2 linked regions of the Homo sapiens genome follow. The protein of the gene in region 1 purifies or fractionates together with the protein of each later gene. This does not show direct contact. Each region holds a gene or a part of one and is shown on either strand. Other genes may lie near its edges.

Evidence for each region. The genes of interacting proteins can lie anywhere in the genome.
Region 2: the proteins of DENND4A (region 1) and MAST3 purify together in Homo sapiens (affinity purification with mass spectrometry, with the first as the bait; one large-scale study listed by BioGRID). This does not show direct contact.

The regions. Positions count from the first base shown.
Region 1 is NC_000015.10:65,790,194-65,793,793, forward strand, and holds the start of DENND4A (C-myc promoter-binding protein), read right to left. Parts: upstream 2,101-3,600; 5' UTR 1,817-2,100; exon of another isoform or gene 1,756-1,816; intron 1-1,755. UniProt on the Homo sapiens protein: Probable guanine nucleotide exchange factor (GEF) which may activate RAB10. Promotes the exchange of GDP to GTP, converting inactive GDP-bound Rab proteins into their active GTP-bound form.
Region 2 is NC_000019.10:18,128,606-18,132,277, reverse strand, and holds part of MAST3 (microtubule-associated serine/threonine-protein kinase 3), read right to left. Parts: intron 3,413-3,672; coding exon 3,327-3,412; intron 1,785-3,326; coding exon 1,576-1,784; intron 370-1,575; coding exon 231-369; intron 1-230.

The sequences.
Region 1 (3,600 bases):
TTCCAGGAACTTGAGAATCAATAACTCTTTAAACCAGTGGTAATTCATGTGGAAAAGTTCAGAACAAATCAGCATCAACTTCCTGGCTCTCTTGCACAGACAAAAAATTCATATTGCTTCACCAATTTTCAAAAATGTAAATTTGTGTATATAAGTTTAAAACTTGGACCAAAAGTTATCTACATTTATTCCCAATTTGCGACTGGTATCAAGATCAATTAACTTTCTCAGCAAGTACACTGTTATAAAATTCCACAGTGATCCCAGAATGGAAGGGGCTTAAAAAATAATATAAAACAAAAATTAAACTCCACAGTGAAGTAGGTCTATGTTTAATCATTCAGAAAAAGAAAATTATGTAACATATTATATATAATGATGATGATAACATATGCTGTTCTGGACTCCTACTGAGAGCTGTGGTTCAAAGGGAAATCGTGAAAATAAAGTAAAAATTGCCGAAAATGTTTAATTCTGCCCAAAACAGTTTCCAAAAAAGAAGCCAAATATAATATTTTATTTTAAGTTCAAACAGGGTTCAAACAGCTCAGAAATTTTGTATACTTAAGTTTTCAGAAGTCGAATCCCAGAACCGCTATCAACATAAACTGAATAACTTGCTCAAGAGTCCTTACTTATTACCCAATCTTAGGTCCCCCAGAATACTTCTTAAAATAATCCCAAATGTACTACAATAGATTAGCGTAACCGGGGCTACGCTGTTTACAGGTGTCTCCACCTCCTCCCCCAAGGAGAGAAGAGGTATACTAGGGTAAACAGAAAATAGAAGGAGACTATATACACACCAAATAACAGCTTGTAATCTTCTAAGACTTCTTTTACATTCGGGCTATTCTTTTCATTAACGTATAATACATTTTAAAGAATAACATATTCACAGAGTAATACAATTTCTGCCCTCACGGGTCTCTAGCTGGCTGACACGCGTTTTCTCCTCAAATAAATACATGCCTGTTGACTGATGCCTGTCCTGCTGTTGCAAACAAGAAATAACTGTCCTATAAGACAAAAACCTCTCTCTACGGTTCTAGGCGTAACCATACGTTTGAATTAAAAGCACATTGGAACAACAACAACAATCTTCCAGCACATCTGTCATTTAAAAGCACGATAATGAAAAGCTGTCGCTGCGACCCAATTTTAGGTCACAAGCTTTTTACTGTTTTTCCTGCCCCCCACCTCCAGAAAACAATAAACTTCAAAGGGAATGGTGGTAACCAGGAACAGTTCCCTTCCCCCACCACACACCCCCCCAAAAAGACTAGAAAAAAAACTGGTCAACTTGGACGCTGGCCGCGCTCACGCAGAACCCGTGCCCGCGGGCCGGGGAAGGCTGAACAGACCCTGGGAGGAAAAGTGGGCCTGCAGGCACCCCGGGCTCCCCCCGCCGCCTGTCTCAGATACCGAGCAGGTGGGATTCCGGGAAGCCACCTCCGACTTACGTAACGGGCTTGTCAAAATCCCAGATCCAGGACCTCCCCCTCCCCGCCCCCACTCCCAAATAACAACAGCCCCAGGCCAGCCTGGAATAGAAAATCTGGAATGAAAACACAGGAGCCCCCCACGCGTCCGACGCAGAGGCGCGGGTGCTACTCTCAGCACCGCCGCGCCATCCCGGGGCGGACCGAGCCGCGGAGCACCTCCCGGATCTCAGGAGCTCTCGGGCGGAGATCTCGGCCATCCGTGCCTCCTCCCCGAACCCACCCGCCCCGCTCCCGCGCCCCCGGCTGTCACCTCTCCGGGCCGTGACAGCTCCACCTGCCACCGCTGCCCGGGTCGCCGCCCCCGCACTCACCACCCAGCTGGCTCCCGTGCGAGCAGCGGATCGAGCTCGGAGAGCGGCGCCGGAATCCCGCACGCGCGGTAGCGGAACACGAGGGGCTGAATGCCGCGGCGCTCTGAGCCCGCTTAGCTCATCCCCAGCCCGGCGCTCCGCCCTTCGCGGCACCCCCGCCCGCCCGCCCAGGCCTGCCGTCTCAGTCAGACGGGACTCCCCCTCCCCTCGCGGCCGCCACTGCCTCCGCCTCTTTCTCCGACTCTAGCCTCCGCGGCCACCGCGACCGGCGCCATCTTGGCAATGACGGAAGGGGCGGGGGCGGGAATCACGCCCGCGAGCACCAATCGAAGGCCGGATCTGGCCCGAGTGGGAGGAGAGGGCCGAGTTGAGGGTCGTGGGGTCCTAGCGCCAAACTGATAATGGGGCGGTGAAGGTGGGCGGGACTAAGTCGCCTTAGTCCGTGACGTGCGGTGTAGTTGGGGAAACGCACCGTGGTTCCCCGTCGGGTCAGGAGATCCCGAGCCCCAGGCTGGCGTGGGCGAAGCGTACAATCCCTTCACCTTTCGTCACCCAGAGGCACAAGAATCCAGTTCGCGCCAACTGACCTGTTTCTTCCTTCCTCCCCGGCACTCTGGGAGTCCTGAGATTGCCTTGCTCGGTTCGTCTCAGACTTGCTAGATCTGAGCAGCTGCTGCTCCTCCACCAAGGGTGCTCACATTCTCCAGGAAACTCCCTTAAGGGTTAGCAACCGCCGAGTAGGTTTCGGTCCCAAGATAGAAAGGTAAAGCGGGGAATTCAGGGGGTTTCTCCGAAAAGTACGTTGATGAAACAGCTATTGTTGACTGACGGGGTGTCGATTACTTTGGATTAATTGGATACGGCCTACTTAAACCTGACTGTGGCTCTCCACCATTGATGGCTGTTGACAGATGAGGTTAATAAAGCTTGATTACCCCCATGGGGTTGCTCGGGAGTTAAATTCTATAGTACCTGTGAAGTACTTAGTATAGTGCTTGAAAGTACTCAATAAATGTTAGACATTATTCCATGGACAAATGAAAGAAGAAACAGGACCCCCAAAATCCCTCTGCTTTAAAGTCAACTTTTCCTAAATTGCATAGCCTTTTACTAACCAAGTTTACAACTTTATTTCCTACCTCCAGTTCTTTCATTGTATTCATTCATTCAGTCAACAAACATCCATACAGAGGGTGCACAGTGGTGAGGGAAACAGAAAACCTTTGCCTTCAGGAAACTGCAGTTTAGTGGGAGAAGAGGGACAATAAAAAAGTACTTAAGCACATTTTAAGGGGAAACATGCTATAAAGGTTAGAAAAATAACTGAGGCCAGGCGCCTTTGCTCATGCCTGTAATCCCAACGCTTAGGGAGGCCGAGGCAAGAGGGTCAGCTTGAGCTCAGAAGTTCAAGACTAGCCTGGCAAAATGGCGAGAACCCTGTCTCCACCAAAAATACAAAAAATTAGCCGGGCGTGGTGGCGTGCGCCTGTGGTCCCAGCTACTTGAGAGGCTGAGGTGGGAGGATCGCTTGAGCCCCAGAGCCGGAGGCTGCAGTGAGCCGAGATTGTGCCACTGCACTCCAGCCTGGGTGACAGAGCAAGATTTTGCTTTAAAACAAAACAAAACAATCGAGTTGCATACTTTAAATATATGTAGTCCTCTGTATGTCAGTTAAAGCTGTAAAAAAAGACTTGTTTTTGACACAGAGTCTTGCTATGTTGCCCAGGCTGGAGTGCAGTGGCCTGATCACGGCTTACTACAGCCTCCCTCCCAGGCTCAATTGA
Region 2 (3,672 bases), on another chromosome or scaffold:
CAGACGCCTATTAAGTGTCTGCTCTCCTCTCCTCTGTACACACAAGATGTTCACCATGCGCTCATTCCCTGCCTTCCTGTCAGGAGGTACCAACAGAGCTCAGACAGATGGGGCTCCTGAAGGGTCCCGGGATGCACCTCAGAGGCTCTGCCCTGATCCTCTTTGGCCCCGCCCCTGATCCTCTCTGGCCCCGCCCTCCGCGAGGCCCCGCTCATGCTAGCTCAGCTCACTTGTCTGGTTTGAGGTCACGGTGCACGATGCCATAGTTATGCAGGTACTCCAGCGCCAACACCGTCTCGGCGAAGTACAGGCGGGCCATGTCCACGGGCAGCGGGCCCATGTTCTTCAGGAGCGTGGCGCAGTCGCCGCCTGGGAGAAGGGCGGATGTAGTCATGAGGCCCGGGGCACCCCCGCCCCCCGCCCGCCCCTTAGGTTATGCCCAATGCCTATGCATCCTCCTCGCTTTACCTCCTGCAAAAGGTCCCCAGTTTGTTCTATCTCAGCGGGGAGGGTCGGGGGAGAGGGAAGGGGCGGACCCTACCTTCATTTATTTTTAATTTTTTAATTTTTTCTTCTTTTTGAGAGAGAGTCTCGCTCTGTCGCCAGGCTGGAGTGCAGTGGCGCGATCTCGGCTCACTGCAACCTCCGCCTCCCGGGTTCAAGCGAGTCTCCTGCCCCAGCCTCCAGAGTAGCTGGGATTACAGGCGCACACCACCACACCCAGCTAATTTTTGTATTCTTAGTAGAGATGGGGCTTCACTATGTTGGTCAGGATGGTCTCGATCTCTTGACCTCGTGATCCACCAGCCTTGGCCTCCCAAAGTGCTGAGATTACAGGCGTTGGCCACCGCGCCTGGCCTATTTTTTAAATTTTTATTTATTTTTTTGAGACAGAGTCTCACTCTGTTGCCCGCTCTGTTGCCCAGGCTAGAGTGCAGTGGCGCAGTCTCGGCTCACTGCAAGCTCCGCCTCTAGAGTTCAAGCGAATCTCCTGCTTCAGCCTCCCGAGTAGCTGGGACTATAGGCGTGAATGGGGGTTTCGCCATGTTGCTTAGGCTGGTCTCGAAGTCCTGACCTCAAGCGATCAGCCCACTTCGGCCTCCCAAAGTGCTGGGACTACAGGCGTGAGCCAGCGCGCCAAGCTGAGACCCTGCCTTCTGATTCTCCCCGACAGGGCAGCAATTAGTGCTGTATACAGCTGGTGTCTCCTAAGTGCATGTTCGCTCTCTCGCCTGGCAGTACTTTGGTAATAGTACTTTACCTGCCTGAACCATACATCTCCCTGCCTTCACTTCTGGTCTCCAGGCCTCTGCCCATCAGTTCCCCCCACCTAGGATGGCCACCCTCCTCTTGCCTCCAGGGTCCCATCCTCACACACTCCTGTCTGGGCTCCTCCAGCCCTAAACCCCCATGGCTGGGCTCCCTACCCCAGACTGGGGTTCCTGAGGGTTCCCCAAAGCAGGGTGAGACCTCATGGAGGACAGAACAGACCTCAACTTGGTCTAAAAATTTTCTCCCAGGCGTGGAGGGGTGAGCTCCCCATCGCTGGAGGCATGCAAGCCCCAGTGAGCGTACCTTCCACGTATTCCATGACCATACATAGGTGGCGCCGGGTCTCAAAGGAGCAGAACATGCTGACCACAAAGGGGTTCTCGGCAAAGGTGAGAATGTCACGCTCCACAAAGACCTGCTGGATCTGGTTACGCAGGATCAAGTTCTGTTTGTTGATCTTCTTGATGGCAAAGCGCTGCCGTGTGTCACGGTGCCGCACCAGGTAGACGGCCCTGGGGACAGAGGGCCAGGCTTGCTGGGACCGGAGATCGAGGCCCCAGCAGGCACTACAGCTCAACTTGAGCCCAGATCCCAACCTGCCTGGCCTTTGCCTGTGCTGTGCCCTCCACCTGGGCCACCCATTCTCCTTACCTGTTCCCCCTCCCAGAGCAGCCACCTTTGGGTTTAAGCCACCATGGCTGGGGGCCATATAAATGGGCTGCACATGGCCCTTGTATATTGGCCTCTAGGTTGTATGTTTCTTTTATTTTTATTTTATCTTATGTTTTTTGAGATAGCGCCTCACTCTGTTGCCCAGGCTGGAGCACAGTCATGAGATCACGGCTCACTATAGTCTTTACCACCCCCCCGGCTCAAATGATCCTCCCACAACAGAACCTGGCTAATGTTTAAATTTTTTGTAGAGATGGGGTCTCGCTATGTTGTGGAGGCTAGTCTCAAACTCCTGGCCTCAAGTGACCCTCCCACTTCGGGCTCCCAAAGTGCTGGGATTATAGGCGAGAGCCACTGCACCTGGCTGCTTGTGTATTTCTTTCTTTCTTTCTTTCCTTTTTTTTTTTTTTTGAGATGGTCTCACTGTGTCACCCAGGCTGGAGTGCAGTGGGGTGATCTCGGCTCACTGCAACCTCTGCCTCCTGGGTTCAGGTGATCCTCCAACTTCAGCCTCCCAAGTAGCTGGAATTACAGGCATGTGCCATTACGCCCAGTTAATTATTCTATTTTTAGTATTGATGGAGTTTTGCCATGTTGCCCAGGCTGGTCTCGAACTCCTGGCCTCAAGCGATCCTCCTACCTTGGCCTCCCAAAGTGCCTCCGCACCTGGTCTAGCTCTTTTAAAAGACCGCTAGCACCAAACTCAAAGTTTTACACATCCGTTTGTTTTACACACAGACCAAGTAAGCAAAATTTTAGCCACTGAGAGCCTGTCTGCTTTGCAGACTCGTGAAACTGCACCATCTCTGAGCCATGGATAAGATGAACTTTGTGGATTTCAAGACCCTAAGCTGCTACCACCCTGCAGGGAGTCTCTGACCCAGAGATTGAGTGCCCATGCTGTTGAACAACATCACCTAGACATGTAAGCCCCCTCTCTGATCCCCCTCTGCCCGGGGAGTTCCCTTGCCGGCCTCTCCCTCTTGATGGTGACTCCTGGAACCTCAGCCTCCAAAAGGCTTATGCTATGAGGGACTTCCCTTGTATGCAAGCCTGCCATTCAAAGCAGCACCTAAATAAAGCTCACTGCGTGCTACTCCCACTGGGTGGGCATCTATTTCCTTGATCAGCCCCCAAGCCCCTAGAACGCCCTACACCTGGGGCAGGTAAAGGCCTGGCTCGTGGACAGAGCACACATGAGGCTGTAACCTCGCTATGGCGTGTCTCCACTTCCCCCTCCAGTCCTCAGGTGCCTTCTCTGCCCATTCAAGGATGAATGTGTGAGCCCTGCTGGGGTAGGAGGGGGATGCAGGAGCTGCCTGGGCCTCAACCATCCCCTCAGGCATCTGTGAAATGGGTCTATGCAGGACTCAGGGACTCACCCATAGGCTCCGTTGCTAATGAGTTTGATGGTCTCAAAGTCGCTTTCGCATGGCTTCCTCCGTGACTGGCCGACCAGGGCGCGGCTCTAGGGGATGGGAAGGGCTTAGGGTCCTGCCCCGCTGCAGAGCTGGGAAGGCTTCTCCTGCCCCCAAGCCCAAACCACTGGTCCTGGTGCCCGATGCTACCTCCTCCCCTGTCCAAACTTCTCCAACTCAGCTTCTGACTTTCTGTACTTTTTTGCTCACAGCTGTGCCCTCCTCCTGGGAAATTCTTACACGTCCTGCAAAACTCACCTGTCCAGTGCCCCTCCAGCACTGCCCCCACCCGACTTCCAAGGCAGGGCAG